2 separate regions of the Homo sapiens genome follow, and region 2 is linked to region 1. Evidence: fine-mapped expression QTL. A gene starts in region 1. The other region holds a variant in brackets. All regions are shown on one strand. Distances are between the middles of the regions. Region 1 holds the start of PHEX (phosphate regulating endopeptidase X-linked). Region 2 overlaps PHEX (phosphate regulating endopeptidase X-linked).

Region 1 (4,000 bases):
TCCCGAGTAGCTGGCATTACAGGCATCCACCACCACCTCCGGCTAATTTTTGTACTTTCAGTAGAGTCGGGGTTTCGCCATGTTGGCCAGGCTGATCTCGAACTCCTGACCTCAGGTGATCCACCCACCTTGGCCTTTTGGTTTTTTTGAGACACAGTTTCATTCTGTCACCCAGGCTGGAGTGCAGTGGCTCAATCTCAGCTCACTGCAGCCTCCACTTCCCAGGTCCAAGCGATTTTTGTGCCTCAGCTTCCCCGAGTAGCTGGGATTACAGTCACGTGCCACCACACCTGGCTAATTTTTGTATTTTTAGTAGAGACAGGGTTTCGCCACATTGGCCAGGCAGATCTCGAACTCCTGACTTAGAGTGATCTGCCCACCTCAGCCTCCCAAAGTGTTGGGATTACAGGTGTGAGCCACCACTTCTGGCCCCGAAGTTGGTTTTTTGTTTTGTTTTGTTTTGTATTTGTTTTTTTCCAGACAGTCTTGCTCTGCCGCCCAGACTAGAGTTCAGTGGCATGATCTCAGCTCGCTGCAACCCGCCTCCTGAGTTCAAGCAACTCTCCTGCCTCAGTCTCCTGAGTAGCTGGGATTACAGGCGCCTGCTACCACGCCCGGCTATTTTTTGTATTTTTAGTAGAGACAGGGTTTCACCATGTTGGCCAGGCTGGTCTCGAACTCCTGACCTCGTGATCCACCCGCCTTGGCCTCCCAAAGTACTGGGATTACAGGCGTGAGCCACTGCGCCCAGCTGAAGCTGGTTGTTAAGAGTAAGTGGCTAGGGCTAACTTGTATGATTTTTATTGCTCTCCTTTTCACTGTGAAGGGCCAGGAAATGTCGATGTTGGAGCTGCAACATTGAACATGGTTCCTGACTTTGTGGAACTCATGGTCTAAGATGTGTTCTAGAGTGAGGTCCAAAAACTCTTGGGAGAATCCCATACTAGGGGCCAAAGTCCTGCTAGGGTGTGTTATGGAATAACAGCAACAAAATAATGTCAACAGCCAATGAGCACAGGATAACTACAACACACCATGATGTCATAACTTGGACAAAGGCTTGTGACCCCCTGACTTTGGCGCAACATGAAATGAGCAGAAAGTAAGGTATATTATGGAATAAGCCCCAAAACTTGAGAGAATCCCATGCTAAGGGCTTAAGCCCTGACCAAGACAAGCCAGACAGGACCATGAATGTGTGGCCATGTTATACTGAGCTCATCAGCACCTGCTGAGCTCCTGTGTCACCTCTAAAGCCATGCGCACAAGTTTTGCATTGAGATAATTGCTCTACTGGTTTCTAGATATAGTTGAATTCTCCACCCCCACTCCCACTGCCCTATGACCTCCAGCAAAACAAAAGCAGGTAGGTAGTAATTGTGTTGTGAGTTAACGATATCTATATCTTTGGATAATAAAATCTATATCATTTCAGTGGTAGCATTGGAATATCAGTTGCCCTTCCCCATGAAGAAAGCACATTGTTATCGTTTAAATCATTATCATAATCAAAAATATCAAAGACCCAGTCATTCATCAGTCTTTCCAGTGAAGTCAACTGCCTTTGTTTTTTGTTTGTTTATTTTTGAGACAGGGTCTCTCTCTCTGTCACCCAGGTTAGAGTGCAGTGGCGCGATCTGGCTCACTGCAACCTCCACCTCCCAGGCTCAAGCGATTCTCCCACCTCTGCCTCCTGAGTAGCTGGGAATACAGGTGCTCACCAACATGCCCGGCTAATTTTTGTGTTTTTAGTACAAACAAGGTTTCGCCTTGTTGGCCAGGCTGGTCTCGAACTCCTGGCCTCAAGCGAGCCCCCTGCCTCAGCCTCCCAAAGTGCTGGGATTACAGGCGTGGGCCACTACGCCCGGCCTGAAACCAATTGCCTTTGAATTCATCCTGGGGAATCTGCTGAAGTGGACAGTTTATGTAAACACAAAAACATCCTAATGAATGGCTGCCTCAGTAGGAGTGGCAGACAAAACACATGGTGCACTTTTCATCAAAAACACACAAGGAAAAAATTTTTCATCATATCTTTTGTAGTTGCTAATAAACTTAATTCACGCACTTGTGTTTTTTTGTGGGTTTTTTTTTTTGTACACTTCTTAGTACCACAAAGAGGAAGTGCTTTTTCTCCTTCCTTTAAGAAAAAGTTCCAGTTCAAACCATCAGCCTCTGTAGGTTGTCTTAATTGCTACTTTGCACTGCACTGGACTATGACTGATTTTTGGCACATGCTATCATACACAAAGTTCCTGAAATAAAATGCTCCAGGATATCCTAGGAACTCTTAGAAGGCTTTAAAAAGGGACTCACACACTGAAAGAATATCTTTGATGAAGACAATTCAGGCAAGCAGAATGATTCTTGCAACAGAATTACATGATTAATTGAGATCTTGAAGTGGGTCCGGTGAATCCTGGCCACCTAACTTATCATGATTTGGGGGAGTTTCACGAGAATCCAGTTTTGATAAAACAATTGTTTTTTTCCTCCCCAAGTGACTATACATTTAAATAGCTAAAACATCTGTTCAGCAACATAGTAAAACATATATACTCGGAACGCTTGAGAGAAGAGCCTGCCAAACAGGGACTTTGCTGAGGGAGAGCACCAAGATAAAGCAACACTGTTTGTTTTGTCTAGTCAGGGGGAAAGCCAAGGCAACCAATATTTTGGTTTTTATAATTTTCATTTGTGAAGAATTATTTGAGAAAGGGTGGCGAGGGGAGATTTCCTGACGGCAGTTTCTTAAGCTGTCCATTAGTAGAAGAGCAAGAAAGCCTTGGATGTCAACGCCTCGCTCTTGAGACCAGCCACCAAACCACGAAAAGTGACTTTCTTCTCGTGTGCTCTCTACGGCCCTTCTGATGGAAGCAGAAACAGGGAGCAGCGTGGAGACTGGAAAGAAGGCCAACAGAGGCACTCGAATTGCCCTGGTCGTGTTTGTCGGTGGCACCCTAGTTCTGGGCACGATCCTCTTTCTAGGTAAGTGGAGTGCAGGAGGCCGGGGGAACTGGGTGTGTGTCGAGAAGTTTCCTTGTGCTTTATTGTAGCAAAACTTGTCATAACACAGGTATAGGGCTGTTTGCCTGCGTTCATAGGTGGTGTATCTTTAGTTTCTATCAAATATGCAAATGATAAAGAAGGCTTTTTTAAGGAGCCTAAATAAATAAATACACCCAAGTACCAAATGTATAGTCCAGAAGGCAAAGTGGGTGTAAGTGGCTTCGAGTGGCTGGCTGATTCTGTTGCATTGGGTGGAAAATTTTTTATGTGGTACATTTAGCAAAATGAGTGTTTGTGAATTCATAGTCACATAGTTTCATTTATATTTTGAGGAAAGACTTTACATTGTGATGAAAACCATGCTGGAGTGTCTTTCCATTTGACTTTTATTAATGTTTGCTTGAACGAATCATGAAATTTAATTCACAAAACACAAATCAGTCCTTTAAAGTGTGCTTTTAATGATATTCTTCAATTCCTTTCTTATCCAGTGACTCTGGTGAGATGCAATTTGATTTACAAATTAATATGAAGGAAAACAGAGGTTTTCCCCCAAGATTTGAAAGATATTGTGATTCAGTTATTTTAATGACTGTTGGTGAGAATGATGTACCCAGAGAGTATATAGGATGATAGAAGTGTATTCCCATGAAAAAGAATCAAATATCTTGGAAAGGAGTGAGGGATTTTCTAAAATTCTAGGCTTTCTGAACCCTTGACTATTACCGTTTTAATTTTTCTCATACAACCCATAATACTTCATTAACTTGAACGTTACATAGGAACGAGGAGATTCTAGGTGCAGTTTGAAATGTAGCAAACCTGCAGGAGGCCATGTTTATTTTGGCAGGGGTAAACCAGTAATTAAACTTTAAAAGAGTTAGGGTTGTGTGGTTGAAAACTGCTAAAATGAGCAAACCATCTTTCCACGCTTTCTGTGGCTGAAGATTTAGGAAATTAGATGGGTTTATTGCTTTCTGATAAAGCGAAA
Region 2 (4,000 bases), 66 kb after region 1:
GGGTGAAGAAAGGGAAGCTAAGGACACTGAAGCATTTAGCAAAGAGGGGCCAGACGTCTGCCAGTCAGCCCTCTGTAATTTTTACCTTGAAAAATCACTGCTAGTAATGCTCACTTCCATATCTTACACTACACATCACTAGGTACTTTTAAAATTAGTGGGATACATAGTCCTATGGAAACTTCTGAAGCTGGGAAGACAAGACAGTCCAGCCCAGCCAAATACGTCCTTGTAATTACAACCAGGGAAGCATATACTTAACCAATCCAGCTAGAGAGATGTGTGCACAAGGAGAGGTTTTATTGATGGAGTAGCCCTTGTGATTGGAACCAAGTGGAGTGTAATTGGAAAGGCTTGCTAGATGCAGTGAGTCTTGGGCAGTCCTGAGTCATAGTTCAAACCATGGAGGTGGTGATGGTGGATAGGAGATGCAAGAGTCGGAGAGTCATGTGTGCAGTGGGAAGGTGGCAAGTTTAATGCAAGGGAATTAGATGATGGAAGGCCCGAAGGCAAAGTCATGACGTGATTGAGGGGTGGATATGTGAGCTACTGCTGGTCAATGGAAGTGATTAAGATGATCCTTGAGGAAGATAATCATTGCTGCTGTTCTTAGGTTAAACATAGTGGAGGCTAGAAGCTCAGATTTGGTGTTGGCCAAATGGCCAAGAGCATGAGTATTAGGAATTGAAAGAGTATAGAGCCAGGGCTAGAGAGAGGCAAGTTTTGAAATGTGTGTCCAGGCGGTGACTAAATCCATACCCCCAGCAATGGGGCTAGGGAAATCTCAAGGCCAAAGAGACAAGAGGGGAAATGAGGGAATGAGCTGTTGACAAAATGATCACGGGGAACAGTGGCATCCAGATAGTCTTGTGTTCATCAGTGAAAATTTGCCCCTAGAGGTGAAGGGATGGTCTGTGGTTCATGAAATATTGAAATCATTATCTGGAGACCACAGGTGACAATGGGATGTTTACCTCAATGTCCAACTTAAGTTTGATTGTCAAAATTGAGCCAGCAATAGATTTTGCCCATCCACATTATAGATTGGGAGGGAGATTTGGGGTAGTTCTTTTTGTACTGGGGACAATATTTCACACAGAGGAGGATATGAAAGTTTATTTTCTTAATCCTGCCTAAAGTGATGTCTTTTTTTCTCTTCCCCGAGTTGGGGACCACACCAAAGCCTTGAAAAACTTTATAATACTATGCAGATGTTTTGGCACATGTAGGAAGTAATCATACAGTAAGAAATGGTTCACTTGAAAAAAAATAACAAAAATCTCTTTTCAACAGATAATGATTCCACATGAAAACCGAACCAGCGAGGCCATGTACAACAAAATGAACATTTCTGAACTGAGTGCTATGATTCCCCAGGTTGGTGAAAACTATCCAGAAAACTTTCTCTCAACTCATCATTTTAGAAGGGATTGGATTTCATCTCTGTGTAAATTTGTGTCTTGTAAAACCTGCTCTCAGTCTTGGTTATCATCATCTTTGTCAACAATCACATAAAATATCCCTTGTCTGTGTATTGGGATGCCTTCTGTTACAGGGAACAAAACATCTTTCCAACAGTGGCTTAGAAACTTAAAGCCTATATTCTCACATGACAAAAGTCTAGACATAGGTAATTGTTGGCATTGGCTCAGCTGTTTAACAGTGTTGTCAAAGGCCCAAGTTCTTTCTATCTTTCCATCCTACTGTGTTTAGTGTGTTGGCTTTTTGACTTCATGTTTGATGACTCATGGTTCCAAGGTATCCATCACAGCTCCATATATCACATCTGCTGTCAGAGCAGGAAGAAGGTGAAAGGGCCAGTGATGTGTCTAACTCTTTTACTAGGAAAAACAAACAAGCCTTTCCAGAACATCTCCAGATGTCTTCCCTTTATTTCTTATTGAGTAGGATTGGGTCACATGGCCACTCCTAACCACAGGGGAGGTTGGGCAAGTGAGTAACTGGTTTTCCGTTTCAACAGTGGACACAGGCAAGGAAGAAAAGGTTGGGAAAAGACTTTTAGAGTAGCCAATCTAAAAAACACCATATGGTGTTTTAGGTAGGATAGGGATGCTCTGAAGAATGGAGGCATGTTACTTTCTGTGTTTTTATTTGTTTTTTTTTGAGACACAGTCTTGCTGTGTCATCCAGGCTGGGGTGCAGTGGTGTGATCTTGGCTCATTGCAACCTCTGCCTCCCGGGTTCAAGTGATTCTCCTGCCTTAGCCTCTCGAGTAGCTGGGATTACAGGTGCCGGCCACCACACCTAGCTAATTTTTGTATTTTTGATAGAGATGGGATTGGCCAGGCTGGTCTCAAACTCCTGACCTCAAATGATCCACCTGCCTCGGCCTCCCAAAGTGCTGGGATTACAGGT[G/A]TGAGCTACCATGCCTGGCTGCATTTACTTTCTGTTGCTGCTTATTTCCTCTTGTGTTTTTTTTTTTTTTTTTTTAAAAACTGTGTCACAGAGACAAATTATGTACTGGGGCATCTGTTTCTGTGTGTATGTGAGAGTGAGGGAGAGTACAGGACAGAGAAAGGGAGGGAGGGAGAGAGAAAATGTACCGTATAGAGGAAGAATTTAGAAGGAGGAAGAGAAATGCAGGAGAGAAGGAGGGAAGAGTATGGGAGGAAGAAAGAGTATAGAATAGAGGAAGAGTACTGGACAGGGAGAGAGCAGAATGGGGAGAGAAAGACAGAGGGGAGAGTTCAGGAAGGAGGAAGAGTACTGGAGGGGGCCAAGGGAGTGAGGGTGCATATTACTGTGTTAGTGTGTGTGTGGGTGTCGTCCAGATGTAGATGGTACAGAACACATGCTCCATTTGTGATTAAGACAATAGGTCAGGCCGAGCATGGTGGCTCATACCTGTAATCCCAGCACATTGGGAGGCCAAGGTGGGTGGATCACTTGAAGTCAGGAGTTCGAGACCAGCCTGGCCAACATGGTGAAATTCCACCTCTACTAAAAATACAAAAAAAAAAAAAAAATTAGCCAAGTGTGGTGGCAGGTGCCTGTAATCCCAGCTACTCAGGAGGCTGAGGCAGGAAAATTGCTTGAACCCAGGAGGCAGAGGTAACAGTGAGCCAAGATCATGCCACTGCACTCCAGCCTGGGTGATAGAGCGAGAATGTCTCAAAAAAAAAAAAAAAAAAAAAAAAAAAAAAAAGACAATAGGTCTGGATGGCAATGATCAGGAGTTTATTTTCTAGACTTGAGTAGTTGCATCTTGAATTATTAGGTGTGAAATCAAAAGAAATGAATGATGCTCAATCTACTCTATCTGCCTTTCTTACTTGCTACCTAACCGAGATTCTCTCATTCTGTTTTGTTCTCTCTCCCCTCAGTTCGACTGGCTGGGCTACATCAAGAAGGTCATTGACACCAGACTCTACCCCCATCTGAAAGACATCAGCCCCTCCGAGAATGTGGTGGTCCGCGTCCCGCAGTACTTTAAAGATTTGTTTAGGATATTAGGGTCTGAGAGAAAGAAGTAAGAACTTTCACATGAATTTTACTGTGACTTTTGTGTTTTCTTTAAATTATAAGGGCTTCCCTTCTCACATCCTTTGAAAACTGTTTTTAAAGAATGTTACATCAAAAGAGTCATAGGGAAAATCCCGGTGTCCTTTGTGATGAACTGGCCAAAAGCACTGTCTGGTGTAATTTACTTGCTGCAATGATAACAAATGTTTTTGCCCTTTATTTCTGGTCTTTCTCCATGCTGTTCTCTTTGAGATCCTAAATTGTTTATGAGCTTGGGGAGCTAGTCATATAATGATGTTATTTTCTAAAATGTCTGTGTGAACATCTTTTTTTTTCCCCAGTTCATTCTCAATCTTTTGCTGCTTTTTTTTTTTTTTCCTGGTTCCTTTTTAACCATTAAGTCACTTTCTGGCAATAAACTAAAGTAACTGTATTGAGAAGACACAAGACCACCTTGAGAGTGGTAGAAAAATTGCACGGATAAAACAACTTTAGGAACTGCCAGGTTTTTCTTATT

Evidence for each region. PIP is the estimated chance that this variant, and not a neighbour inherited with it, causes the effect. A credible set is the group of variants that fine-mapping cannot tell apart.
Region 2: its variant is the best candidate, but not a certain one, in a credible set for the expression of PHEX in esophagus muscle (GTEx, PIP 0.85).

Annotation. Positions count from the first base shown.
Region 1 is chrX:22,030,136-22,034,135 of GRCh38, forward strand. PHEX (phosphate regulating endopeptidase X-linked) reads left to right here and starts at 2,190. Exons shown (of 22, transcript NM_000444.6): 1 at 2,190-2,988. The coding sequence starts at 2,871.
Region 2 is chrX:22,095,662-22,099,661 of GRCh38, forward strand. PHEX (phosphate regulating endopeptidase X-linked) reads left to right here. Exons shown (of 22, transcript NM_000444.6): 8 at 1,294-1,377; 9 at 3,345-3,490. Among named protein-coding and RNA genes, the nearest start is that of PHEX, 65 kb to the left of the region's middle. The variant G/A (reference allele first, on the strand shown) is at 2,377.